4 separate regions of the Homo sapiens genome follow, and regions 1, 2 and 3 are each reported to be linked to region 4. Evidence: microRNA targets listed by miRTarBase, many of them from high-throughput screens and not tested one by one. Region 4 holds a microRNA gene; each other region holds the end of a gene's coding sequence.
Evidence for each region. The annotated mature microRNA hsa-miR-335-3p reads UUUUUCAUUAUUGCUCCUGACC and lies in region 4 at 3,696-3,717, shown strand. An mRNA with a match to its seed (bases 2 to 7 or 8) in the 3' UTR can be bound and repressed. Matches are read on the target gene's strand: a 7mer-m8 pairs with bases 2 to 8, a 7mer-A1 pairs with bases 2 to 7 and ends in A, and an 8mer does both.

Region 1 (7,120 bases), not on the chromosome of region 4:
CTGAAAGCTACTGCTTGTTGAAAATACTTACATTTAATAGTCTTGTTAACTTTTAAAAAATAAGAACAGATATTTCTACTGGGCCTGCTATGCCACAATAATATAATACAGAAGTAATTGTAAATGTGATATAGCATATTTGTGTCTGTTACAGGTTGGCCTTGCCATCAAACCAGGAACCTCAGTTGAGTATTTGGCACCATGGGCTAATCAGATAGATATGGCCTTGGTTATGACAGTGGAACCGGGGTTTGGAGGGCAGAAATTCATGGAAGATATGATGCCAAAGGTAAAAGAAGTATTTGATTTTGGGGTGAGGCTTTTACAGTGTGTTCATTCAGTAAGCATTTATTGAAAGGCTTGTATATTTAGGCATAACCTGTTCTGAAGGTGAGGAGATGGGGATGCTTACAGATCATTCTAATACAGTATAATAAATGCTGTAATAGATTTCTGATTTGGAAATCAGAGAAGTATTACATCTTTATCTTGAAATTTTCTCTTTCTTTGAGACAAAGTCTTGCTCTGTCACCTGGGCTGGAATGCAGTAATTCAATTAGGGTTCATTGCAGCCTTGACCTCCTGGACTCAAGAGATCCTCCTGCCTCGGCCCCCTGAGTAGCTAGGACTACAGGTGCATACCACCATGCCCGGCTAATTCTTACACATTTTAGTAGAGAGGAGGTCTCACTACGTACCCAGGCTGGTCTTGAACTCCTGGGCTTAAGCTGTCCTCCCACCTTGGTCTGCCAAAGTGTTGGGATTACAGGTGGCAGCCAACCACGCCTGGAAGTCTTGAAATTTCCTTTTGAAACTATTATCTCTAACTTTTAGATCTCTTGGAAGTTGTCATTGACTATTGAGGATTTGTCTGTCTTGTTTACATGACAGTCTCTGCAAAGACAATACAGATTGCTGTTTGCCAAATAGAACAAAGCTTGCTATTAAAAACCAAGTGTTCCCCAGTAATATGTTGTATTGGTATAGTTATTGTGTGAGACAATTGGAGTTTTAATTGCTAATATTTGCTGTTGGATTTTTTTGTTTGATTGTCCCCCACCCCCACCCCCACCAACATACCCACTTTAGGAGTTACTTATTTCCTCATGTATATATCTAGGTTCACTGGTTGAGGACCCAGTTCCCATCTTTGGATATAGAGGTCGATGGTGGAGTAGGTCCTGACACTGTCCATAAATGTGCAGAGGTGAGATTGCTCTTCAACTATGACTAGACCAATTTCCCGTCAAATATGTCTCCAGGACATTGTCTCATGGGCCAGCGATTCCCTCTGTGGTTCCTAAGTTGACTTTCTTTCTTGGAAAAGTATTTTTTGTTCACATGTACAACTAGGAAAATAAACAGCCATAAGTGGATATGCTTTTTTTTTTTTTTTTTTTTTTTCTTTTTCTGAGACAGTCTCTCTTTGTGGCCCAGATTGGAGTGCAGTGGCGTGATCTCTGCTCACTGCAATCTCTGCCTGCCGGGTTCAAGCGATTCTCCTGCCTCAGCCTCCTGAGTAGCTGGGATTACAGGTACCTGCCACCATGCTTGGCTAATTTTTTTATTTTTAGTAGAGACAGGGTTTCACTATGTTGGCCAGGCTGGTCTCAAACTCCTGACCTCAAGTGACCTGCCTGCCTCGGCCTCCCAAAGTGTTGGGATTACAGATGTGAGCCATGGCGTCTGGCCCGTAAGTGGATATTCTAAAATCACATAAATTGTTAAAATTGTAAATCCTGGTTTTCTCAGGAAGGCTGAAGAAAGTTCTTTTTTATAAAAGAATATGTTGAATTTCAGCCCTTTGGAAGATCATTAAGTTTCACGGCCTTGGAAGTGAGAAATTTTTCCAAAATACGGAATTAAAAGGTACTACCAAGGGGGGAAAATAGATAAATCTAATTGACCTAATTATTACATTATTCTTTAGAACCTACATATTATTTAGTTGTTCCTTGTAAGAACTTGCTAGAACCATTTTTGATGAAAATCTAGGCCTGATACCTCTTTGGCTATCTGTATAGAAGTAAAAACTTTTTTTTACTTTTTTTTTTTTTTCAGATAGCTAGTCTAGCATAGTCAGGCTCCTGAGGATGCCAGCCCTTCTGGTAGCACTGCAAGTGATTAAAGCTTACATGACTGCTTTTCTTCCACAGTGTGATGTATCTACTTCCAGGTTCTTGTATAACTGCCACACGTTTCTGCTTGATATATACCTATCAAAAGCTTGACAGTAGTAAATACTTATGCAGGAGGGGCTGGCCAGATGATGAGTGAGCTCATATCCTTTTGATCGCTTGTGGAATTGCTTTGTACTAAACTGTGCTTTGCCAGTATACTATTCCTGCTTTTATGCCAGAGGTAGCAAATTTTTTGTGTGAAAAATCAGACCTTGGCGATGACCTTAAACAGCAGGATATGAAGAACTCCCACAAGCTTAGCGTTCCAATAATGGAACACTAGGCATAAATGGGTTAACTGAAGAGAATATTTGCAGTGTTAACCCTATAAAACTCACCTTTATAATTTCTGTGAGGAATATTGTTAGAAATGTTGTCATACATGAAGTGACACTATCTGTCTGGAAAAATTTTCCTCAGCCTGTGGTTCTCCCACTTCTCCCTCTTTGTTCTAGCAATGAATCACAAAACAGATTGGGTTTCCATCCTTGAATCAGATCCTAGGAAGATCAGAGTTAAATTTGGACCCAATTTTTTAGCTTTTCTTTTTCAATTTCTTTGCTTCCATATTTAAATGTATCTTAAAAACTTTTTTAAAGCCACTTCAAAACCATTCTGAAATGCAATGAAGTATAAAGAGACATTCTATTTTTTGACACAAAAACGAGAACTCACTTAATTTTGCCGTAGTTTATGGATAATTTTACATTTTTAGCAATAATTGTCCTTTCACACTCACAAATTCATATAAATATAATTCAAAGAATAAAAGTGTTTTTTTAGTAACTGTAGAGGCATTGGTGCATATTGGGAAAAACCTTAGTGGACTTGAGGAGTAAAGGCTTTTAAACCTTATCTAAAGGTCGCAAAGATACCATGTAGATTATTAAGAGTTGGTTTACCAGAAAGGTCAATGATTTCTTAGACACATTTAAAAATAGTCTGACATCCTCATCTGTGAACATTTTAAATTTTTCTTATTGAACTAGATTGCTTAAGTCTGCTTAATCTCAAAGTGGCTCTCATATGATTGAAATGTTGACAGATGCAAGGGTAGACACTCTAGTCCAGGAATTCTGTTTTAGGTTTTTCTACATTTTCCTTTGAGGCATAACCTAACTGTTTACTTCTTCCAGGCAGGAGCTAACATGATTGTGTCTGGCAGTGCTATTATGAGGAGTGAAGACCCCAGATCTGTGATCAATCTATTAAGAAATGTTTGCTCAGAAGCTGCTCAGAAACGTTCTCTTGATCGGTGAAACCATAAGGAGCCCAGTGTTCCTGTTCATGAAATCTCCCTTTTACTGGAAAACAGGAATATTGACTACCAAATCACAATGCAATTGAAGCCGTACTGCTTTTTTGAGCAGTTATTCATTCCAGTGATTAAAACTGATTGTGCAGAATATTCTAAGAGGTCAGAAATTGGTGTGTATAACTACATTTTTAGTGATGCAATTTATTGATTAGTGAGTAAGATACTGTTTTTATTGAGAGATTTGATTTTTATAAAGTAAAAATACGGCTGCATTAGGGTTACAAACAGAAAAGTGTCTTAATGTCTAAGGAGGGCATATTAGCTACACTACAAAAACAAATTTTGTCTGTACTTCTGAAAAGAATTTTGTTGTTTCTCAGCTGTTTTCCAAAAGCAAAGGAAGTCTTTATGGTTTTTTTCTATTTCATGTTATTGTGATTTGTTTATAAGTTTGGGTGGGGTGCATACCATATTCTTGGTTCTTAAAATCTATCACTTTTCACCTTACACTTGATGTGTGAAAACTATAAAAACAATGTGTGAAACCCAGGGGTTCTAAAATACAAGCATAGATTTTATCAGGGTGTTTTGTCAAAGCAGGTTATTCAGTGATTCCTCCCCACCATTCTTAAGAACGTTAAATAATGCTGTTGTGTTAGCTCTGAGTAGAAAGGAAAAAGTAAAACCTCTGTTTGGAGGTAATATTGGGTTGAATTCTGACTGCCCCTTTCTAGCTGGACCTTTAACAAATCACCCAATCTTTTTTGTGTTTCTCTAAAGTCATTTATACATTAAATGTAATTATAGCAACTGTGGGGTTCTGTTGAGAATTAAGAGCTAACACTATATATGTAAAGTTTCCAGTACTAGTCCCAGAATTTAGAATATGCTCAACACAAAGTAAACAGCATTATATAAGTTTATATTTTTGTGAGTTATAAAGTACTTTGATATATTCTCATTAAATCTGTAAATCACCTCTATAAGTAAGTGGTAATAATAAAGCAGATATTTTTGTCCCCATTTAAAAAATGAAGAAATTAATGCTTAATAGGGTGGTACCCTGGAAAGGATCTGGGAAGTGGTAGAATTTCTGGTCTGTACTTTTACAAATGGAGCCCTTGGGAGGTGGGTTAGGTAAAAGAAGCTTTTTACTTAACGTTGTCTTATTTCCAGTCTAATTTTACGCTGTAGCAGAACCAGATGGCTGAGAAAATTCTGGAACTATGGATCTTGACCCCAAGGATATATTATTTTATTCCAAGAAAGATCAGGTAGGCGAAAAGATGACAGGATACAGAGTCAATCCATAAACTAAATATTTATAACTGTTCTGAATTATACAGAGTCTAAAAATATGTGTCAGCTACTTCATTCCTGTAAATACTCTTGCTGTGTTATAAATATGGCAAGAAATAAACATGACCAATATCAATAGACTTCTTGAGGCTACTATAAGTTTTGAGAAATAAGGTTCAAAAAATAAGAATGCTAACACTTAAGCACAGACTAGAGCTTGCTTGGGTTTCTTCCTGCATTACAAGGTAAAAATTTGTTAATGTTTGTTTTTATTCAGCTTGGGAAAGCTTTGTGCCATGAATACGTCGCATTTAATAACAAGCAACACACGGCATATAGAAATAACTTTAATTAAAAAACTTACATAGAAGATTATAATATCAGACGTGACAAAGATTTGAGTTTATTTGCCTGGACAACTTGGGTTTGTCTGGCTTTTGTTTTCTTTTTCTTTAAAAATAAATGTACAGTAAAACTACAAGCAAAAGTTTGTCAGTATTGAATTGAATTTTTTACCCCTTAAAAGGACTAGTATAATTTCCAATCTCTAACAAAAACTTAGTGTCAAATCTCACAGATAAGGCCAAATGGCCAATATTTTCAGTTATGTGGGTAGTACAACTTGAGTAACCTTTTTTACATGACAAAAAGTGAGTTATATAAATTGTCCTCAACTTTCACATAGGAAAAAAATGGTTTAATAGCTTCAAAAGGAATTTTCTTTCATGTATACTCTTCAGTATCCAATATTGAAGCTTTGTTCTTTGAAAAATTTTAATTTCCAATCTAGGATGCAAGCAAGAATATATGTTTATTTGAATAGAGTAAGCTATGGCAAAGAATGACCAAATTAGCTAGAAATAGAAATCAGCCAGAATTAACTAATTTCTTGCTAATCTAGAAATACAATCATCTTTTTTTTTTTTTTCAAATTTTATACTGATAGGGCTTTACTGTTTGTGGCTCATTTTAAAACTGGTGTCTTCTCTTCATGAGACACATTAATTGGTAAAACTCAAATTGAGTTTTCAAAGATGTGATAGTATTAAAGTGCACCAATATTTGACTCAAATTTGCTTGCTTTATTTTGTTAGGAGTAAACAGAAAGTAGCCTGTGTTTAGTCCCAAAGATAGCAGTGATTTTGAATAAAGGAGTTTTGTGTTGCCTGGATATATGAATTTCTGTAAATAACTTCTGTTGGTTAAACATGTTAAAACAACAACAACAACAACAAAAAACTTCTGTCTCTATATTCAGGACGTTCAGATGTCTTTTATTAGTGGAAACCTGTGTTTTATCTATTCTGCAGCTTACATTTCATAGGGTAGTTCATACATGCATTTCCAAGGGGAGTGGGTCATTGCCAGTGTTTTAAAAACTACATAGGGGTGTGTGTGTGTGTGTATGTTTATTTTATACACACATATTTGTATATTCTAATATATTACTAAGGCAATTTTAATGAATTACCATGTATATAAAAAAATAGCTGTCACTTGGCACACAGGTTTGTATGTATGTGTATATATATATGTATGTATGTATGGTGTGGGTACATAGTCTTAAAAATTACCCAGTAATGTGATTTGACATCAAGTTGCAGCAATTAATATCTTGGTGTTTGTAAGTAAGTTGCATGATAAACACAAATGACTACCACTTGTCTGTAGATGAAAATCTGGTTACCCTTATGGTTCCAGAAGGAAAAACAGACTTATCTTGCCTGTTTCATAAACAGCATAAAAGATTAATACATGCAGAACATGCTCTTATTCTGGAGGGGATGGGGGATCCAGAACAGGGCTTTATTTCCTCCCATCTTTCCTACATTTACATAGTTTTCTTAACCTGTTCCCTGTCACCTATTTTTTTTAACATTAGTAAGTCCTAGACCAAAGGTTTTGTATTCTTCCATTCCATCTGACTGCTTTTTTGGATGGTGGCCATTCTCTGGTACACTGGTACCGAAGATTTCACCATGGAAAGCTGTGCTTGACCTTTCAACCTGATCCTTTTTTTCATCTTGACATAATAAGGCTGCCATGTCTTCACCCTTCAGTGGAAAAGCCCGTCGTTCCCACCACAAAGACTGAAAGGGGAAAAATTTTCAGTTAAGTTTCAACTAACTTGTTTTGTTTAAATTCATCTAACAAGTAATCTGTACATGTCTATATTGTAATAATTGTTCTGTTCTTTAGCACATAAATGTACAATTTTTCATTTCAACTTAAATAGCAACTCAAAATGGAATATATTGAGAATTGTTGAGTGACTTTTGGGATTTATTTCTTTACTTTGCCTCTGCCAAGAAGAGGAAATGCTGCCATAGGCAGTGGTCTTCATTTCCGACCTAAGAGTACTTTGGGAAAGTGTTCTTAGGTT
Region 2 (7,120 bases), not on the chromosome of region 4:
TTTGTTATTTATTCACTGAAGAATAGTTTCCTAGCTAGGAATTTGCAGGTTGCTTCCCTCTGGTATTGGATAGCATGTTGCCGCCACATTTGAGGGCTTCCTCTGCTGGGTTCTGAGCATATTGAGGTCTGAAGTCAAGGAGTGGCAGGTGGGAGTACCGCCTCTGCTTCTGGCAAAGGCGATTGGAAGGATGTGGCTTAGTGTGAGGGCTTCTGGGCCTGCAGTGAGCCCTGGGTCACAACCTCACCTACCCAGTCCTGGTGCCTCAGGTCAGATCCAGCAGAGCCAGTGGAGGACATGATAGTACCCACCTGTAGTCCCAGCTACTTGGAGGGCTGAGGTGGGAGAACTGCTTGAGCCCAGGAGGTTGAGGCTGTGGTGAGCTGTGATTGTGCCACAGCATTCCAGCCTGGGCGACACAGTGAGACCTTAAGAAAAGGAAGGAAAGGAAATGTAGAGACTGGGGCAGGAGTGGACCCTTCAACCCTTACTCCATGCTAAGGGCTTGATCTTTGTCACCACAGCAACCTGTTGAGGTTGTTCCTCCCCTATGCCTGCTTACAGAGGAGGAAACTGAGGCTCAGAGAGACAAGATGACTTGTCCAAGTTCTCACCACTAAGAAAGAGCAGAGCTAGGCTCAGACCCAGTCCTGCTGCCTCACTGTCACTGGGATCACCAGCCAGATGCAGGCACAGTGCTTCACCTGGCAGACAGGGCTGAGGTTCAGCCAGTATACCCAGCTACATCCAGGTGGCAAGGGCCTGGGGGCCTGGCCCTGGAGAGCCACAGGTGGGCATTGCTGAGGGGTGAGCTCTCCAGCCAGCACTCATACTGGCAGCAGTGCAGTGTCTCTAGAACCAATGGCCGACGCCCATCTGACCCTGCAAAACTGTGGCTGTCCTCCACCCTCTGAACCGCCTACCAAGAGCCCTCCAGTGGCTGCTGGTGGGAACTGCAGCCTCTTCTCCCTCCCTTGCTGGTGGTTCCCTGTTCTGAATCTCATCCCTGCCCACAGGAGACCTACCTGATGAAGCACATGTCCAAACACACGGTGGTGGAGCACCTGGTGAGCCATCACTCGCCCCAGAGGACGGAGTCCCCCGGCATCCCGGTGCGAATCTCTCTCATCTGAGCCCACTGGAGGCGCCGCCCCACCCGGCCCACTGGCAGACACAGACCCAGGCAGCACCAGGCCCCAGCTCCCTCCGGGGGCCCTCCAGGAACCACCAAGCTCTCTCACGACCTTCCCAATCTTCCAGAAAGCTTGGTCCGCAGAAGCCCTGCCTGGTCCAGTCCGGGGGCGGCCAGGCCAACTGCAAGATTCTGGACTGTTTTGGTGGCATCCAAAGACGATCTCAGAGCACTTTGAACCTCTCTGTTGAGTTTTCTTTTTGTTCCCCACCCTTCACTTGCTTCACTGTTTTTTTTTTTTTCGTTTTTTTTTTTTAAGTTTGTTTTGGAAATAACAGAAAAGATATTTATTGGCCAGGAAGTTGGTGCTGCTAAGACCGAGAAATTTAAAGAATCGGACAGATGGACGCAGAGAACCAGAGGGCAATGTGGGACCTTCTCTTGCCATGGCCTCAGGTCTTGAGGGAAGGCTCGGGCCTAGGTTTCTGGACTGCAAAGGGGACCCCCAGGTGGGAGGGGCAGGAAGCAGCCGGAGTGAGCCCTTCGCCCCTGAGTGCCTGGCTCGCACCTCTCGAGCTGTGCCCTGGGCATCACTGAGCAGAGGGGTGCGGCAGCTTCAGGAGGCAGAAACGAGAGGGGTGGGAGATCCACAGGACCAAAGGGTGCAGTGATGGGCTGGGTGGCGGGCCCAGGGAAATGGGGTGGGGATGGGCTGGGTAAGACCTGGCCCTCCCCTGCTGCCCTGAAGACCACCCCAGTCTACCTCGGTGCTGGCCAGGAAACCTTTCGGCTACCTCTCCCACCATCCCAGACTGTGGGCAGGGGGATGGGGAGGGAGTGGGCCTGGATCTGGGACCTCCCTCCAGAATTTCCTCCAGATGGGGGCAGTGCCCAGGGAGGGGTTATTTGTCTTCCCTGCCATGGAGTGGGAATCCCCAGCCGAGGCCCTAGGCCCCTCAGCAGGGAAGGGATCCCCGGGGAGGCAGGTCCCAGGAGCAGACCCTGCCCCCAGCCCCCACAGACACACCCCAATCTGAAAGCCATGCGTGTCGGTGTATATAGGAACCATGTACAGAGCCCAGAGAAGCCCCCTACATCCCCCCGGGAAAAAAAAGAAAACTAGACAGAAACTCATCTATATATTCTGTATCTGGAGTTCCGTTTTGAATATTAACTGTGTTATTTTTATACACTTTTTAAGCCTTAACTCGCCATTGATTTACCAGTTTAACGTTTCCTGGGGTTTCTTTGCCCATGGGGTTCTCTGCCCCCACCCCCGGCCCTTTGTTTGACTTGCGTCGTCTGATACTCAGTATTGTAGCTTTTTGTCCGCATGTTACTCCCTGTAAATACGCTGTTATACATACTGTTAACACCCCTTTGCTTTTTCTATGGGACCTCCAGGCCACCATATTTAGAACTAGTTACCTTATTAAAAAAGAAAAAACAGTCTGTTGGCTTCTCAGTCTGCATCTTGGAGGCAGGGAGGTGAGGGCAGGTGCCCCTCAGACACTTCAGGAAGGTAGTTTGCATTCTATTTAAAAAAGGGAGTGGGGAGCAAATGAAAATCAAATGTGGGGGGAAAACACTAAAGGGGGCAAGAAACAAAGGAATTACAAACCCTCTGCTCTTTGTATTTCTCTGTTGTGAAGAATAAACTGTACCTGCACCCGGGTGGCGGTGGTGTTTGGCGTGCTCTGTGCGAGGGCAGGGCTGGGGGGCACCTTTCCATTGCTCCTCTCCCCTCCCCCGCCCCCCAGACTTGGAGAAGGAAGAAAGTGGCCTCTCACTGTGGGCTGGCCTCACTCCAGGTGCTGAACTGAGTGCTTTATGTTGATTGCCTCACAACTCCCTAAGAAGTGGGCAGCAAACCAAGAGAGGCCCTTTGCTAAGGATCATGCTGCAGTATAGTGGCAGTGACATAAACTGACCCAGCATTGCCTAGTTCTGGAGCCTTCTTGGATATACTAGGTCCACCAATAAGTCTCACTTCCACTGCTCCCTGAGGGGGCACCCCACCTATGTGGGGGGGGGGTCCATCATGAGTGCCTGATTTGTGGAAGTGATTCTAGTGATTGGAGGGGGAGTCCAAGACATCCTTGTCATACATTGTTTTTTCCCCATAGGAGTCAATGTTTTGACTGCCTAGGAAGGAAATTTAGTAATAAAATCCCCAAAAGCTTATCATGTCTGGCCCTGTGGAAGCACTGTGAGGGGGACAGTGCTTCCACTGTCCATGGAAGGTCATCATGGAGGTCATCTACCATGGAGGTCATCATTGGTTCGAACTCGTTTCCCTGAGTCCTCACAGTCCTCATGTGTCAAGACTTTGCTGCAAGTGATAGAAAGTCCAATCCAAACAAGGGTGTATTGGCTTATGTAACAGGACAGTGGTCAGGCCAGCTTCAGGGCTCAAAGGATGTGTCTCCAGCTCTCCACTCTGTTCTGAGTCAGCTTCAGCCTGAGGCGCCTGTGGGGTCAGCAGCTCTAGTCTCTCAGTCCCCAGGGTTCCAGCAATCAAGCCTCTTGTCTCTCTGACAAAAGCCTCAGTGTCTTCATCTGTTTTATGCTGCTATAACAGGATATCACAAACTCAGTAATTTATAATGAGCAGAAATTTCATTCTGTTCATGATAAATTCCAGTCTCATAGTTCTGGAGGTTGGGAAGTCCAAGAGCATGGTGCCAGCATCTGGTGAGGGCCTTCATGCCATGTCATCTCATGCCAGAAGGCAGAAGAGCAAGAGAGGGTGAGGCCAGGCTTGGTGGCTCATGCTTGTAATCTCAGCACTTTGGGAGGCCAAGGCAGGAGGATCACTTGAGTCCAGGAGTTTGAGACCAGCCTGGGCAACATAGGGAGACCTTGTCTCCACAAAAAAAAAGAAAAAGAAAATTGGCCAGGTGTGGTGGTGCATGCGCCTGTAGTCCCAGCTACTTGAGAGGCTGAGGTGAGAGGACTGCTTGAGCCTGGGAGGTCAGGGCTGTGGGGAGCCGTGATTGCACCATTTGCACTCCAGACTGGGAGACAGAACAAGCTCCATCTCAAAAAGAGGGTGAGAGTGAGAAAAATGGAACTCGAAGCCTCATATCCTTTTATAATCAGCATTAATCCATTCATGAGGGTGGAGCCCCCATGGCCCAACAACTCCCACTAGGCTCCAACTCCTAACACTGTTGCACTGGGGGTTGTTTCCAACACATATGTTTTTTTGGGGGGACACATTCAAACCATAGCACCCAGCAAAAGTCTAATTGGGTCTTCCTGGTTCTAACTGCATCATGTTGTGTGCTTGTTTGGCTTGGGCCTAGGGCCCATGCTCTAAGCCTGGAGTAGAGGGTGAAGCCCTCACCTTCTTTACTTTCTGAAGCACAAGAGGTTCCCTAACAGGAAACCAGAGTGTGTTACTATCAGAAGAGGAAATGGATGTGTGGTAGCCAAGAACCAGCATGTTTTCAGTAATCTCAGGGGCCTCATCTCTTTCTCTGAAATTGACCTCCCATAGCCTGCTTTGCCATGAAAGGATGGGCTCTGGCAGCCATATTTGTGTCACATGACCCCATTGCAGCCACAGCCGATTGGCCAGGGGTGGACACCTGACTCTGACTTGATACATAGGTGCAGCCAGTGGTGCATAATGGCTGTCCTGATTCATGTGAGAAAATTGTGCACACCTCTTCCAAGCTCTGCATTCAGGGAGTACTGGTAGCTTGAAATCAGCCATGGTGGGATTTACACCATGGATATTGGCCAACACTATAAATCAGGGCTTTCTTTTTCCCCAGTCAACTGCTAGACTTATACCAGCACACCACCGGACGGAGCTGACTCTCCTGTCAGATTCTCTATTCCATGAATTAGGAACAAGTTAGGAGATGGTGGGTACCTGAACTGGAAAACCCTGTAGACTGCGGTTTGGGGTGACTGTGTTGAGCTGGACACAAGCAGAAGAACAAAGCCGGCAGAGAAAGAGCAGAAATGGACCAAGGAGACCAAGAGCTAGTGGTAACCTCTGTTCCTGTCCGTCTTCATCCTCTGGCTATGTTTAATCTCCTGTTTGTTCTCACTTCAATGAGTTTAAGTTGCTAGTGGTGTGACATTGTGTTAGTTACTAAATCTGTGCCTGATCTCCTCATATGTAAAATGAGGTAAACAGTAGTAACCAACTTACAGTGTGGATGTGAGGATTAAATGAATCAATACCTGTCTAATGCTTAGAACTGGCACGTTGTAAGACCCAATATATGTCCACATCATTATTGCTGCTATTTGCCTTAGCCCTAAGGGATCTATGATCCTTATGATCAGTGATCCCTGACTGAGAGCTGAAGATGTTTGGGAATTTCTAGGGGTGGCATTTGAGCTTGCATGGCAAGGCGGGGCGGCTGGGACAGGTGGAGATTTTGCATGTAGCAGTGATGCTGAGGGGACTGAGTCTGATTTTCACTTGCTCACGTGGGGAGTGAGTGCCACTGCCCCTGGGGGAGCCTCAGGATAGGTGCTGAGGACAGTGTTGATGGTAATGGAGGCAACTGCAGAAGGAGCTTTAGCCCTCTTGTTATTCCTGCTTTAGATCCAAGTCCCTCTGTACCCACCCCCACAACCCCTCCTTAGGCCTCTGGGCTCACTAGGAGGGGAGCCATTCCCAAGGGCTGCCCACCCTGCAGCTTCCTGGAACCCCTCCCTCCTCAAGAAGATCCCCAACAACGCAAGGCTGCCTCCAGTCCACGCCTTGGAAACTCCTGAGCATGCCATTTATTCCCCCTTTAAAACAGAAATGACTGGCTGGGCACAGTGGCTCATGCCTGGAATCCCAGCACTTTGAGAGGCCAAGGCAAGTGGATCCCTTGAGCCCAGGAGTTCGAGACCAGCCTGGGCAACTTGGTGAAACCCCGCCTCTACAAAAAAAAAAAAAAAAAAGCCTGGTGTGGTGGTGCATGCCTGTAGTCCCAGCTACCTGGGAGGCTGAGGTGGGAGGATCACCTGAGCTCAGGGATGTTGAGGCTGCAGTGAGCCATGATCATAGCCACTGCACTCCAGCCTGGGCAACAGAGTGAGATGCTGTCTCAAAAACAAACAAACAAAAAACAGGAAATGACTGTTCTTTGGCAAATCCTTTGCACTCTCTGAGCATGCTGGAGAAAGGGCAGGCACGGAGAGGAAGGCAAGTTGTGTTTTCTAGAGCACCACCACAACCCCTGCAGGGAGGAAGAGTGGCATCCACATTTCACGTATGAGAAAACTGAGGCCAGCAAAGGTAAGGAACTTGTCTACCCACACACAGAAGAAGAGCCAGTTCACATCATCTCTTGCTGGCTCATGCTCAGGTATTGAATGGCCCAGCAATTGTTAGGGTCTGCAGCAATTGTTAGGGTCAGCACGTGTGGCCCTCAGTGAATGCTGCAGGGTAAGGTGGAGGACACACATCTTCCCCAGCTCACAGGCAGAAATTTTTTTTTTTTTTTTGAGACGGAGTCTCGTACTGTCATCCGGGCTGGATGGAGTGCAGTGGCACGATCTTGGCTCACTGCAACCTCCGCCTCCCAGGTTCAAGTGATTTTCATGCCTCAGCCTCCCAAGTAGCTGGGATTACAGGTGCCCACCGCCACGCCTGGCTAATTTTTGTGTTTTTAGTAGAGACAGGGTTTCACCATGCTGGCCAGGCTGGTCTCGAACTCCTGACCTTGTGATCCGCCTGCCTCAGCCTCCTAAAGTGCTGGGATTACAGGTGTGAGCCACTGTGCCCGGCCAAATTGCCTGTTCTGACACACGTGGCCCATTCTCATCTCTAATCCTGAGTCCAGAAGACCTTCTGGGTTTTGCTAATCTAGTTTAGACAGGAGACATTTTGAACTGCTTTTGAGAGGACAGATCTCTCTTATTGTCAATAGCTGGGCCTGGTAAATAGCAAGAATTGCTGCCCTACCTGGGAGTGGAGGCTATTAAAATGCAAGGTTGGTGACAATACTACATAAAAGATTCAGGAGAGCC
Region 3 (7,120 bases), not on the chromosome of region 4:
AGATTGGAAATATTTTTTTTTTTCAAGACAAGAGTTTCACTCTTATTGCCGAGGCTGGAGTGCAATGGCGTGATCCTGGCTCACTGCAACCTCTGCCTCCCAGGTTCAAACAATTCTCCTGCCTCAGCCTCTTGAGTAGCTGGGATTACAGGCACCCACCACCATGCCCGGCTAATTTTTTTTTTTTTTTTAGAAGAGACAGCATTTTACCATGTTGGCCAGGCTGGTCTAGAACTCCTGACCTCAAGTGATCCACCCGCCTCGGCCTCCCAAAGTGCTGGGATTATAGGCATGAGCCACCATGCCTGGTCTTGGAAATTCTCTGTTTTTTTCACAGACAAGATCTCGCTATGTTGCCCAGGCTGGTCTTAAACTCCTGGGCTCAAGCAATTCTCCTGCCTCAGCCTTCCAAAGTGCTGGGATTACAGGCATGAGCTACTGTGCCCCTGACCATAAGACTTTTTTTTCGAGACAGGGTCTCTCATCACTCAGGCTGGAGTGTGGTGGCGCAGTCACAACTCACTGCACCCTCCATCTTCTGGGCTCAAGCAATCCTCCCACCTTAGCCTGCTGAATAGCTGGGACTACAGACGTGCACCACCATGCCTGGCTAACAAGATCTCGCTATGTTGCCCAGGCTGGTCTCCAACTCCTGAGCTCAAGGATCTGCCCACCTTGGCCTTCCAGAATTCTGGGATTACAGACATGAGCCACTGTGCCCGGCCCATAAAGTCTTTTTGATGCACAGATAATTAACAGATATGAAGGATCTTAATCAATTAATAGTTTTGACCTAATACAGCTTAACAGCAACAAGTGCCAAAATTTGAGGTCTTACTATGTGCACTTTACCTGAATCGATCCTCACATCCTATGAGGTATTATTATCCCTGCTTTTCAGATGAAGAAACTGAGGTTTACAAAGCTAGTAAGTGGCAGAGCCACGAGATTTAAACCAGGTTTGACACCAGTGCCCACTCTCTTCACCACTACCATTTGGGAGTACTGTCCTTCCAGGACAAGGAAGGATAGTCCTCTGCTTTTCCCAGAATTAGCAAAGGTTCTGATTGACTTGATAAGGTAGTCTCAATTGATACGGATGATAGGACTTTGAGGAGGGAAAGGTAATAAAGCTTACACTTGGTCATTTTGCTTGTTTCTGTTTTTCTCCTTGTGTGTCCAATACCATTATTGCATACAAAAATAAGTAAGGGGTGGGCAGTAGGGTTGAGGGAATATGGGTTTGTGGGAGGGGGAGATGAAGCAAGGAAGGGAAAAGAATATAGATGTGGTTGTAATTTCCCTTTTTCTCTATTTTTTTTTCTTACGCAGATAGACAGAAACCAGAGGTAATGGCCACTTCATCCACATGAGGAGATGTCAGTATCTCAACCTCTCTTGCCCTTTCAATCCTAGCACCCACTAGATATTTTTAGTACAGAAAAACAAAACTGGAAAACACATTGTTTGGTCTTGTGTTTCTTTACAGAGGTACCTGAGGGAGGAGAGACATAAATCCCTTCATCCCTAAGACTGAACTATGTAACTAGCAGCCTCTGGCTTGTTTTCTACTCCCTGTCCCTCAGGATAAAATGTTGATATTGCTCATTTTCCTCATTTCCAACATTGTTTTAAAACAAGTACTTCTTTTACAGGCTTGAAAAATCTCAAATAAACGCTAAGAAAAGGGAGTAGGAAGAACAAGGAGTTGAGCCCTTGAAAGATGACAGTGGTCTTCTTGCCTTCATGCTTGGCCCTCTCTCCTCAAAAGGGCAATGTTGGTACAAAATTCCATCTCAGCCACTTTCGAGGAGTTATCTTCATTAGCTATATCCATCCTTTAATCCAACACACACCTGCAATGATTACTGTGCAACTATTTTGCTTAATTTTTTATTTGAAAAAATGTATTTAAAAGTCCAACAACTTTTTAATATAAATTACGACTCTCAAACCCATTCCCATCACTTTATTAGTGATGGTAGCATACATATTAGAGAAGGTAGCTAAAGGCAAGAGAGCACCAAAGGAAAAAGACTGTCCAAAGAACAGGTATTAGAATGAGGCCGAAGATCACGGTGACCAGAGATTTCTAGGAGTCTCTAACCTTTCCACCCTATCCTGTTAACCCTTTAGATCTCTAGTATAACACTCAGGCTACTGAGGTATTTTAGAGCAACAAGCTGGGTTACTTTCAGAGCAACCAGCTTGACTGGAACTGAGAGTAAATTGGGAATGTATGACCAATCTTAGACCCTGAAAAATGGCAGAAAATACATGGAAATTTGAAAAAAAAAAAAAAAAAAAAAAAAAAAGAACCTCAGTCACTGTTCTGTAGGGATAAGCAAACTGAATGGGTGGTGGAATTGGCAGAATGGATACCAGTTCCTACATTCCTGACCCCACTACCATAAAACAGGATGTTTCCTGTTGCAAAGCTAATGAGACCCCACCCTTCTTGTCTCAGAGCAGGCAGGAGCTCATCTGTCTTGTTCTGCCTTCCTAATTACCCTGGAAGGGCCAGAACGAAGAACACCTGAGAATACTGAAAGTGCCTAAAAACCCCTGCTCCTACGTTGTTTTCCCATTTAAAGCAGACTCTTCAGCCAGGGGGCAGTGGGACCTGGTCTTCAGACAAAACTCCCTGAGTCTAATGTGTGTCTAGGACTAGGGCACAGAAATAGAGCTTAAAATTTGGGGAGGATAAGGAGTGTATCTACTGCTTCTCTCTCCCCTTTCCCCAATCCTACCATACCCTGTTCATATCTCTACACTGCAGGAACCACTTCTCCAGAGGGCAAGAATGGAGGAGGGGGACCTGTCCATCATAGCAACATGCAAACACAAGCAAAACACTGAATAAAGAATTGTTTGGAGATTATGTGCAGCCCTACTGAGCCTCATTTATATGGGCTCCTAGTTGATCCATGGCTCGGGCTTAAGATGAGTAAGATGATGAGGGTAGCGTGCCAAGCAGAAATCACTTCAGAGAAAAATATCTTGACTTTAGAGTTGTGGTTCTCAAATGGAGGCGATTTTGCCCCCTAGGAGAAATCTGGCAATGTATAGAGACATTTTTGGTTGTCATAACTAGAGTGGGCCAGGGTTGCTGCTAAATATCCTGTAATGCACAAAATAGGAAACAGGTTTTCCTTACAAAGAACACTTCAGCCCAAAATGTCAAAGGCATCTCGGTTGTGAAACCTTGTTCTAGAGCCTCTCCCTGCTCCCGTGCTGTGAGGATCTTAAGACTCCTAAACTCACAGATGATTGTTTTCAACCTATTTATCTCACCATCCTCAATGATCAGAAGTCCACCTTGAGATGGACTTACTCCTAGTTCTGCCGCATTCTGGGTTTCTTTCCAGACCCCTCTTCCTCCTCTCACCTGGGCCAGCAGGGAGGTTGGCAGAGGGCAGGAAAGATGCCCCAAAACTTAAATGGAATGTCATCAGGTGAAGAGCTACCTCTTACCTTAACTCTTATTCGGTGGGAAACAAGGTTCCTAATAGGGATAGAGTTAAGGGCGGAGGCAACAGCAGGATGAGGATAATTAAGAGAACCTGAATTAAATTTTTAATATTTTAAAAAAGGAAAGTTGCTGGGAAGCTGGTAAACAGAAACAGAAGATTAGAGGCCTAACTAGAAAGAGACACTGGTGTTAGCAGAGAGATATTGAGGGGCTGTAAGCCTAAGGTTTGAAATCTAAAGATAGAGTGGAAAAGGGAGTAGGCACCCCCACCAGCCCCTGCTTGACATCTGCTTTAGTTCATTCCAGCAGGAAGGAGGAGAAGGGCAGGGAGGTAGGGAGCTTCTCAGCAAAGCCAGCTTCAGCTTTGATAATCTCACCCACCTACCCCATTTAAGGAGTTCCAGGTTTAAGAGTTTAAAAACAGGTGGCACCCAGACCATCATTCAGGAGACAGGAACTCATTCCAGGTTCCTAGAGAACTCCTATCTCAGACCTGAGGGTTTCCAGGGCTTCAGCTGAGCTCCTCTGGCTAACCAGTAGTCACTTGATCAGTCCTGCTGCCTTGACCCCATCTCCAGGAGGGGCTATGGCCAGAGGGAGTAGAGGGAGTCCAGCCCCCAAGCCTTGTGAGGCACTGTTAGGCAGATAGGGAAAAGAGGGGTCCTTAGATCACTGGTTCAAGGAGGGATCTGGTAGGGGCAGCATTTCTTCTGGGCTGGAAACAGAATGGGGGTTTCAAGATGGCAGAACCTGAAATAAAAAAAAAGTTTTTCTTAAAGAAGATTAGCCTCAAAGAAAACCAAGGCTTTAGGAAGAAGGCACTACCTAGTGCAGACTTTAAGCTATTTCCACAGTGTGTTCTTTACTTCTGTCTGCACAACACCCTCTCAGTCTTTCTATATCCTACATTCTTTTTTTTTTTGAGATGGAATCTCACTCTGTTGCCCAGGCTGGAGTGCAGTGGCGCAATCTAGACTCACTGCAACCTCCACCTCCCGAGTTCAAGTGATTCTTCGGCCTCAGCCGCCTGAGTAACTGGGATTACAGGCGTGTGCCATCATGCCTGGCTAATTTTTGTACTTTTAGTAGAGACAGGGGTTCACCATGTTGGCCAGGCTGGTCTCAAACTCCTGACCTCAAGTCATCTGCTGACCTCGGCCTCCCAAAGTGCTGGGATTATAGGCGTTAGCCACCATGCCCGGCCTAGATCCTACATTCTTGAATCTTCCCTTCTAATTCCTCCCTATCTCCCATTCTTTTTTTATATTTTGAGATAGAGTCTTGCTCTATCACACAGGCTGGAGTGCAGTGGCGCGATCTCAGCTCACTGTAACCTCCGCCTCCCAGGTTCAAGTGATTCTCATGCCTCAGCCTCCCAGGTAGATGGGACTACAGGAGCACGCCACTGTGCCCGGCTAATTTTTGTATTTTTTGGTAGAGACAGGGTTTTGCCTCGTTGGCCAGGCTGGTCTTGAACTCCTGGCCTCAAGTGATCCACCCATCTCGGCCTCCTAAAGTGCTGGGATTACAGGCATAAGCCACCATGCCCGGCCACACCTCCCTTTCTTGCATAAGATCAGGGTTCTGAGTCAGGGTATCAGGTTGTGCTGTTATGGGGGCTGAGGTGTTAGATGGGTTTCTCTAATCACTCACCATTCCATTATTGGAGCTATAAGCCCCTAGAATTGCTCCATGGCCTATCTCGGTTTCCCTTGGATCTCATCTGCTCCTGAACTGCACCTGTCTGTAAAAAAACAGATGCGAGACACCTTCGTAAGTCTTCATATCCTACAGTAAGAACTCTACTTTGTGCCTTCCAGGGAAGAGGCTGACGCCATCTCCTTGACAATAGCAGCCATCTGCTAACCACCATTCCTCCTAGGGGAGTCTCAATGCCTCTTTTCACACTGGCCTTCATGAGGATGAGGTAAAATGGGTCTTTTACTAATAATATTCCCTCACAATGGATTCTCCCCTATATATCTGAGTTTCAGGATCTGAGAAAAGACTATCTCTAGACCCATTTCCCTTATTTTGGGAACAGAAGTGCATCTTAGACATTATTTAGGATGAAGGTACTCAGCTTTTTTCCTGTCCCAACACTCCTAAATATATGATTTACTGTGGCACTGAGATAGCAGTTCTTAATTAGGAGAAGGGAGAGTTATAAGTTTTTGGAAAAAGCCCTCCAACTATTAAGATATATATACCCCCTACCCCAGTGAAGAACAATCTGCTAAGTTGTAAAGATGAGAGAACCTAGGCCCAGACACCTAAAATGCCAGGTCTCGGGTTTCCACAACTGGTGACCAGGACTAGAATCCCAGGTTTTTACTTCCCCATTGAGTATTTTCATATGTCCCTAGCTTGAACTTTCAAAAAGAGGGAACGGTTATAGACCTCACCCCTGTATCAACCTCTCCCCATTTCCTTGTTACCATGGCAAGTCCATCTCCGGCCCCCATCTCCCCTGAGCCAATGTGAGTCAGGTGAACAAAATTCATTGGTTCCCCAATCATGGTCCGGTCAATCCGTCTTCTCTTCTTCTTCTGCTTGGAGAAGATAAGGAGTCATGTCTTAAGGCCCCTCCTCCAGTCAGCACGGAGGAAGGGAAAAGAGTCTTCAAAACCACTGAAAAGCTAAGGGCCTGGTGGGAAGAGGGGATGTGGCATTTTAACAGGGAAATCACTAGGGCATGAAAGGCAAAGCTGGAACAACAAAAGCACACAGAAGACATGAACCAGAGTAGTGAGGGCAGTGGCCTGCAGAGTGAACACTGGACAAAGAAAGGACATGTCAAAGTCACCTCTGACTGATGATGAAATAATGGGGAAAACTGACAGGTATGCAGCTCCACCTACAAACCCCACCCAGCTCAGAATGGACAGGAACAGGAGGTAATAGCTAGGACTATTCACTTCTTCCATCACCCAGTCCCCTTTGTTCCACATATACAGCTGCCTGACCATAGAAGCTCCTGACACAGAGGGAGGCAAGAAGTGTGCTTTTTTAGATGGCAGATCCTAGATGGTGTGGCTACCTCACAGCACACAGTAACTGACTGCTCTTTGGGTTAGGATGGGGGGTGGGGAGACTCACCGGCTGGGGTTTCTCTACCACACAGCAGCCCAGTTTGTGCCAAAATTCACTCATGTTCCCTGATGGTTCCAGCTTCACTCCGCTGTCTGAGGCCCCAAAGGGCTCTTTCCCTGGTGTTTGGACAACCCACTCCTCACTCTCCCCAGATACACCACCACCCTGGGTTCACTCAGCTGGATGGGTCCAGACAAAGTGGAATCCCTGGAACCTTTAACTGAGCAGTGAAGGTCAGTGTCTCAGAGCCTGAGAGATGAACAGGACCAGAGAGAGAGGTGGGCAGGCAGGCACAAGGTTATGTCTTCCTCAGACTCGGAACCCTGGATTAGAAGAAAGTAAAAAGAAAGATCAGTGAGAAATCTCCCCCTCCCCCAATCCTTGAGAAACCTCCTGATGAGCCTATATCTTCCCAGTCCTCCCTGAGAGGCCCTAGACCTGTACACCAACACTCATTCCCAAACACTATGAACCTCAGTTTGACTCTAAAAAAAAGGAACAGAACCAAAAGGACACCAAGGGGTTAAGGAGCAGTGGCTGGTGGTACCAAGGGAG
Region 4 (7,120 bases):
CACGCATTCCGCGCCCGCTCTGCCTACTTGAGGAGGGGGTGTCACTCCTGCCCGCAATGGAATGTTCAGAACGCGGGACCTCCTTGGGTTAGGATTTCTAGACCCCGGGATCGTCGTGGTGAGATTTAGGATTTCTGGACCCCAGCGTCATCTTGATATGACTTAGGATCCATAATGACCCTGGTCTCACCCTGATGCGAATTGGGATTTTTAGATCCTGGCATCACCCTGGTGCGATTTAGGATTTTTATACTCAGTCATTGCTGCAGCATGATTTAGGATTTCTAACCCCCAGCATCGCCCTGGTTTGATTTAGGATATTTAGACTCCGGCTTCCCTCTGGTGCGATTCAGGATTCTTAGACTCCGCCGTTGCCGTGGCGCGATTTAGGATTTATAGATCCCGGCAAAGCCCTGGTGCGATGTAGGATTTTTAGAACCCCAGCATCGCTCTGGTGCGACTTAAAGGATAGGCCCCAGCATCGCCCTGGTGCGATGTAGGATTTTTAGAACCCCGGTGTCTCCGTGGCGCACCTTAGGATTTCAAGAACGGGATAATCGCAGTGCCGAGATCGCCGCGGTGCAGCTTAGGATTTCAAGACCCAGGTATCACGGTGGCGGGAGTCACCGCAGTGACTAGAACTCGCAGTGCCCGTCAGCCGCCTTAAGTATTTTTCAGATTTCAGTAACAAGCGCGAGTGAGAACGGCGATGTGACCAAACTGTCATGTTGCGCAGGGATTGTTCACCTTGGTTTCGCGGGTTTTCAAAGTGGTTCGTCTCGCGGCGACGCCATCAGGTGGGCGGCAGGTTGGGTGGTATTATTACGGGAGTGTGTTTTTCTGTTTACAAGATGAAGAAATCAAGGCTCAGAAATTTTTGGAAAGTTTGTTACTGGAGTTTGCTTATTGTCTCCGCTCATGGCTCATCAAATAGTTGGGATTTTGGCCAAAAAATGTTTGCTTAACCCATTTTGCCTACTGACGGCTAGGTTGCTTCACTTCTAAAAATCCTAAAAGTTCATGGGGGCATTTTTACTGAGGTAATAAGACAAAAAATGGCCCCCTGAGAGGTTGCCTCTTTGCTTTCTTGGAGTAAGAGGAGGAGGGTGTGGAGGGGGGTGTCCAGGAGTGGAGTATGTTGGTCGATAGCCTCGTTTTTTAACCCCCCACTTTCCCTGAGCAGCGGCGGGGAAGCCTCCCCATTTGCCGCTCTGGCCGCCCCTCCCGGGGCTCTCTGCTGAGTCACTGCAGAGATTCAGCTGCTGGAACCCCGGGGATGAATGCGATGAGAAGCACTGGGGGAAAGGAGTAATGAAATCTGCACATGAAAATGTATACATTGAAGTACAGGACAGATAGGGCTGGGCAAATGATCGTCAAAACCTAATGGTTTTTGTCATCTGACCTTTCAAGGAGATACTGGGATACAGCCTGCTATTGTTGGGTGAAAACTGTGATATAACCATCATGTTCTGGCACTTTTTTGAACCATTTCTAGTATTACCTTGAGAAGTAGGACCAAATGGTTCTATCCGTCTTATGGACAGGTACTTTGGAGAAAAAAAGAAATGACTGCCCTAATAATGCCTAAAAAATAGCCTGGGGAGCTGACATTGTTTAAGAAACATGGTTATTTTACCACTGTAAAACCACAGGCTTGTTTTTAGATTTTAGCAAAAAGTATCAGGGATATGGGGGGGAAAAGTATCTTGTAAGTTGAGGAAGTTAGCGAACGGGTAGGTAGATTACAGGCAATAGGGAAGAATGTGTGTACAGACGGAAAGCCATTTCCCCCAGGGCTTTAGCAATTAATTTATTTCAGCTCTATGACAACTCTAATTTTAGTTTTGGAGGGTATTATTTCCATTCTGGCTGTTTTGAGAGAACTTCCATTCTACTGACAATTCTTGATCTGTTGACCATCAGAAGTCATAGACTTGAAACAGAACGGTTTATAATTCCTGTTTGGCACTCCTTGTCAATGTGGATAAACTGACTTGTGCCTTTGAAGTCCTGGGCATGGGAGGGTTGGGTGTACCAACCAGTGCTCTTTTTCCAAAGACAAAATCAATTCTCACACGCTGGGTATGAGTTATGCCTTATCTGGGGGTGGGGGAGCATCTTAGGAAATTAAATGGAAACTTAAAGAGTCTGCTAAGAAAAGCAGAAATGTAATCTACCGCCTTGACCTCTCAAGAGATTAGATATTCAGGGTCATGACAAAGCTGCTTATGTTGGAATACACAGTGCAGCTATCTTACTTTCACAGACTGTTTACCCTGAGCAGTTTCTCAGCCCAAATCCAGAAAGGAGTACTAAATGGGGCTTCATTTAGGCAGGAGGGCTGAAAATCAGGAGTAGCTCTCTGCTTGAGGACATGTGATAAGTTACTACACACACACACTCTTTAAAACATGAGATATAGCACATATATATTTTTTGAACATTTTACTGGTTGGGGGTAGTGGGTAGATGGTAGAGCTTTTGGAGTAAATAAGAAAGAAGTTATTTTTTTCCTGGGAAGCCTTGATAAAAGTCAACGAAAGAGTGTCCAGCATTTAAGTCATGTCCCTTTTATTTATATAAAGTCCTCTTCAGCAGGTATTGGGAAGACCACAAGGGTAGGGGCTAAGGGGTTAAAGTCGGGGAGCAGAGGCAGAAGATTATATGTTGAAATAATGTATTTTTTTTCCTTAAGATTAGAATGATGAACAAATATGGTGAGTGCTATGGCAGACAGAGGTTTGATTATAGTCTCGGTCAGCTTTGTGCCTATGTGAAGGGCAATGTAATCATTGCATGGTAACAGCAATCTCCCACCCCATCTTACCAGGTTTTGGTTTGTAGATGAGTGGACAATGTTACCTGACTGCTTACAGTGGGTCTCTGCTTTTCCTACAGGATGAGGGAGTGGTGGGTCCAGGTGGGGCTGCTGGCCGTGCCCCTGCTTGCTGCGTACCTGCACATCCCACCCCCTCAGCTCTCCCCTGCCCTTCACTCATGGAAGTCTTCAGGCAAGTTTTTCACTTACAAGGGACTGCGTATCTTCTACCAAGGTAAGAAGTGGACTATTGGAAGTCCTGCGTGTATCGGTCACATAAGTCCCAGCTGAGGTATTTATTTTGTGGCTATTGGTCTCTTGTTGCTCCTTAATGATGGAGGAGAGTATCTCTCTCTCTTTCTGTGTAGTGTGCTTGCAGAGAAGCGCAGAAAACTGCTGGGAGAATGGGGGTAGGGACTGAGATTCCAACCTGCAGACCTTACCTTTTAGTATAAGTTTTCTTTGTAGCTTGATATGTATTCCAATATTAGTTTTTTTTTTTTTTTGAGCAACCTGTCAGGTAATATATAAAATATTAATAGATATAACCACCATTGGTTCTCTCTCCTTACCATCCCTGATTTCATTTTTTCTGTAGATTATTTGTAGTGTAACTGTGATTTAAGTCTTGATACCATTATATAAATTAATTTGCTAGTGATGATGATTATTATGACCACTACTTATCAAGTAATTACCATATGCCAGGCACTGAGTTATGTTTTCAGCCTTCATTGTTTAATCTTTACAACAGCATTTGGAGATAGGTGCCATTAACCTCATTTTATAGGTGAAGAAACTGAGAAACAGATTGGAAATGATTTGTTTTGAGCGGGGGTCAAGAGCAATAACGAAAAATGTTTGTCATAAACCGTTTTTCATTATTGCTCCTGACCTCCTCTCATTTGCTATATTCAATTAAGTAAGTATACAATTTTTATTATGTTGGCTTGGGTTACTTCCAGTTTTACTGTTTTAGAAAACTAATGTTGAAGTAAAAGCTTCATGTCCATACAGTTTATTTTTTCCTTACATTTTCAAACTATACTACTTGTATAAATGGAATGATTTTATTTGCACAGATTCTCAAGAACAAAACTCTTAGGCTAAAGTATATACAATTTTTAACTGCTTCTAAATTATTTTTGAAAACCTTATTACCAAATTTTCATGTCACTGGCAGTATATGAATATACCTGTTCTAATCCCATACTATTAGCAAGGTTAATATTGTCTAAATGTTTACCTAATTTAGATGATGCTGAATGCTTCCATATTGTCATATGCATTAAAAAAGTTCATGTTTATGTTGATTAAGCCCTTTTTATAGTTGACAGGATTTTGTAATAGTTTTATTATGTTTTTGATGTTAGATTGGGTCTCCTGCTGAATAAAAAGTGCTGAGCAAACAGCATAAGCTAAAGGTGTTCCTTGGGAATAGTTGCTGTATCTTAGAGAATTTCTGTGAGGCCATTCATGATAAAGTACAAAGAATTTGTAGTTTATGTGTTGTGATCATATGCTTTTAACTGAAAATTTACTTTTCACTGAAAAAATTTGCATATTACAGAACAAAAGGAGAAATGGGGAGATGCTGTTTAAAAACACCTAGGTGAAAGTAAACAAGGTGCCTTCAAGTATTTTCACATAGCATGATTTTTACAATGTTTTAATATACAGATTGAAAGGAGAAAAGGCCTGTTCTCACCTAACGCAGTTAAGCTTACATTTTACAAATAATTGTGTCATTTTAATGTCAATTTGGTCACAGTTGCTTGTTCTTTGTATCAGATTACTTAGATTTTAACATCTTCGAGGTTATTTTTATAGGGATTTGGCATAATTGATTGTACTTTCCTTCTTCCTAGACTCTGTGGGTGTGGTTGGAAGTCCAGAGATAGTTGTGCTTTTACACGGTTTTCCAACATCCAGCTACGACTGGTACAAGGTAATGAAGTCAGACTTCTACGTCCTACTATGTCTTAAAAAATCTCGGCCGGGCGCGGGGGCTCAAATCCTAGCACTTTGGGAGGCTGAGGTGGGAGGATGACCTGAGGTCAGGAGTTTGAGACCAGCCAGGCCAACATGGCAAAACCCCATCTCTACTAAAAGTATAAAAATTGGCCAGGCATGGTGGCACAAGCCTGTAATCCCAGCTACTTGGGAGGCTGAGGCAGGAGAATCGCTTGAACCCGGGAGGCAGAGGTTGCAGTGAGCTGAGATTGCACCACTGCACTTCAGCCTAGGTGACAGAGCGAGAGTCTGTCTCAAAAAAAAATTTTTTTTTAATAAAAATTTAAAAAACCTCAAGGATTTTGTTGTCAGCACCAGAAGGCTCTTGCACATTTGAATTGCTTTTAAAAAAACATTAAATGTTGAACTGTTCCTTATTTACTGAAGGGAATAAACAACTCCTTGGCACTCTGGAAGGGATCACTGCCAAGTTACCCTCCCTCAACAGGGATTAATTACCAGGAATAAAGCATTTTCCAAGAGGATCATCTGTGGGACCTGTGGTAGTTTCATGGCGTTTTCTCTTTATGGAAGTCTGTTAAGCCAAGATAGGGCTGAAGCTCCTGTGCAACTGTAGGTCTGGTGAAAGGGAGGGGCAGGAGCAGAAAGCCCAAATCATCGTTTCTTTCTTGTAGATTTGGGAAGGTCTGACCTTGAGGTTTCATCGGGTGATTGCCCTTGATTTCTTAGGCTTTGGCTTCAGTGACAAACCGGTAAGCAGCACCTATGTGGGGCTGGTGATGGGGTGTGGGGGCAGACGCAGACTATGAGGGTCAGGCTGGCAGAGAGAGCTGTCCTCATGACTTCATCCTGTGTATGTGGGCTTTCCTTTCCTCAGAGACCACATCACTATTCCATATTTGAGCAGGCCAGCATCGTGGAAGCGCTTTTGCGGCATCTGGGGCTCCAGAACCGCAGGATCAACCTTCTTTCTCATGACTATGGAGATATTGTTGCTCAGGAGCTTCTCTACAGGTCAGTGGAGCTTCAGACTTCAGCTTATGATGCTAGGAAAGTACATTGTTTCTGGACTGTTTGTATCCTTTTTCTCTCGTTTTCAGCGGTGCACTGGTTTAAGTTTGCTCAGCTACATGTGTGTTTCCTCGTCTCCCTTCTAGGTACAAGCAGAATCGATCTGGTCGGCTTACCATAAAGAGTCTCTGTCTGTCAAATGGAGGTAATTGCCTTGGCGGTAGGTAGAAAGTGGGTGTAATCTAGAAGGGCCATCTTTAGATACAGCGGCACCTAAATGGTAATCTGATAATATTTCAAGTAGACATAATTAAACTATGGGATCTCTACCTCTTCTGTGCCATCAACTCCTTTGGTGGTCTGACAAGATTTATGGACCCTTTCTCAGAATGTTTTAAAATAAAGAAACAAACAGCATTACAAAGGATAGTGACTTTACTTACATAGTCAATAAAAAGCTGCATTATAGTCACATGTGCTTTTTCAATGCATTAGATAGCAAGTTCTAGTGGAGGACCTAGTAACAGCTATATCAGAAGGAGTGAGGAGTGTAAAGACTGTTTGCCATATCTGAAACAACTGCAATAGGTTATGAGAGTGTAGGATTGAAGATACAGAAAAAAGCCACAAGTGTTTCTAATACTACTATGATGTTAGTGTAGAAAATCCTTACTTAATGTCATCAATGGGTTCTTGGAAACTGTGACTTTAAATGAAACGTTATAATGGAACCAATTTTTTTTCTCATCAATGTTTTAAAGAAAGGATGTTATTCAAGGACCTGCTGTACCTCATTCTGCTTAAAGCCGAAGTTTCCAAGAACCTATCCTGATGTTAAGTGAGGACTTAACTGTATGAGATTCCCCAACTCCTAACTGATGGCAGTGCCAAGTTTCAGTTAGAAAATACCGAACCCCTGATTAGACTTTCTGGGTAGCCAGCTTGCAAGTTCATGAATATCCAAATGTCTCCTGAACGCCTTAAGAGCAGACTGGGAGAGAAATCCGTCTCTCCCTTTATCACTTATGCTCATGGCTTTCTTCCACTGACTCTGAAGAGAAAGGGAAAAGGAAAAACTCTAGGGTTTTTAAAGGACCTATACTTATTTAAAAACTTCTTGTTTTATTCTTACAGCCCAAATCATTAACCCTCGTGTTCTGAGTGATAGGGGGAAATGCTAAGGGGAGTCAGAGCCTGGTTATCAGCATTTTGGATGACCATATATTTTCTCCCCGTTTCACTATCTTTAAGATGGGAAAAGTAATTCCAGTGGGATTTATTGTGACCAGTTAAACACAGAATTCCTGGAGAAGT

Region 1: miRTarBase lists KANSL1L as a target of hsa-miR-335-3p. Seed matches in the 3' UTR shown: 7mer-A1 at 5,661-5,667.
Region 2: the mRNA of ZNF362 is a reported target of hsa-miR-335-3p. Seed matches in the 3' UTR shown: 7mer-m8 at 2,694-2,700.
Region 3: miRTarBase lists C1orf56 as a target of hsa-miR-335-3p. Seed matches in the 3' UTR shown: 7mer-A1 at 1,659-1,665, 7mer-A1 at 1,899-1,905, 7mer-A1 at 2,258-2,264 and 7mer-A1 at 2,287-2,293.

Annotation. Positions count from the first base shown.
Region 1 is chr2:210,016,353-210,023,472 of GRCh38, forward strand. KANSL1L (KAT8 regulatory NSL complex subunit 1 like) reads right to left here. Exons shown (of 15, transcript NM_152519.4): 15 at 5,069-6,827. The coding sequence ends at 6,597. RPE (ribulose-5-phosphate-3-epimerase) reads left to right here. Exons shown (of 6, transcript NM_199229.3): 4 at 155-289; 5 at 1,121-1,207; 6 at 3,317-5,908. The coding sequence ends at 3,439. Among named protein-coding and RNA genes, the nearest start is that of KANSL1L-AS1, 10 kb to the right of the region's middle.
Region 2 is chr1:33,297,914-33,305,033 of GRCh38, forward strand. It overlaps ZNF362 (zinc finger protein 362), which reads left to right. Exons shown (of 9, transcript NM_152493.3): 9 at 1,017-2,806. The coding sequence ends at 1,133. Among named protein-coding and RNA genes, the nearest start is that of A3GALT2, 20 kb to the right of the region's middle. RefSeq lists a silencer at 858-1,038 and an enhancer at 1,470-2,419.
Region 3 is chr1:151,049,106-151,056,225 of GRCh38, forward strand. C1orf56 (chromosome 1 open reading frame 56) reads left to right here. Exons shown (of 2, transcript NM_017860.5): 2 at 1,333-2,315. The coding sequence ends at 1,353. CDC42SE1 (CDC42 small effector 1) reads right to left here. Exons shown (of 5, transcript NM_020239.4): 2 at 6,572-6,888; 3 at 5,911-6,021; 4 at 5,126-5,216; 5 at 1,880-4,222. The coding sequence starts at 6,625. The coding sequence ends at 5,142. Among named protein-coding and RNA genes, the nearest start is that of C1orf56, 4.9 kb to the left of the region's middle.
Region 4 is chr7:130,492,467-130,499,586 of GRCh38, forward strand. MIR335 (microRNA 335) reads left to right here and starts at 3,645; the gene lies at 3,645-3,738. It overlaps MEST (mesoderm specific transcript), which reads left to right. Exons shown (of 12, transcript NM_002402.4): 2 at 2,902-3,056; 3 at 4,690-4,769; 4 at 5,470-5,547; 5 at 5,673-5,809; 6 at 5,953-6,011.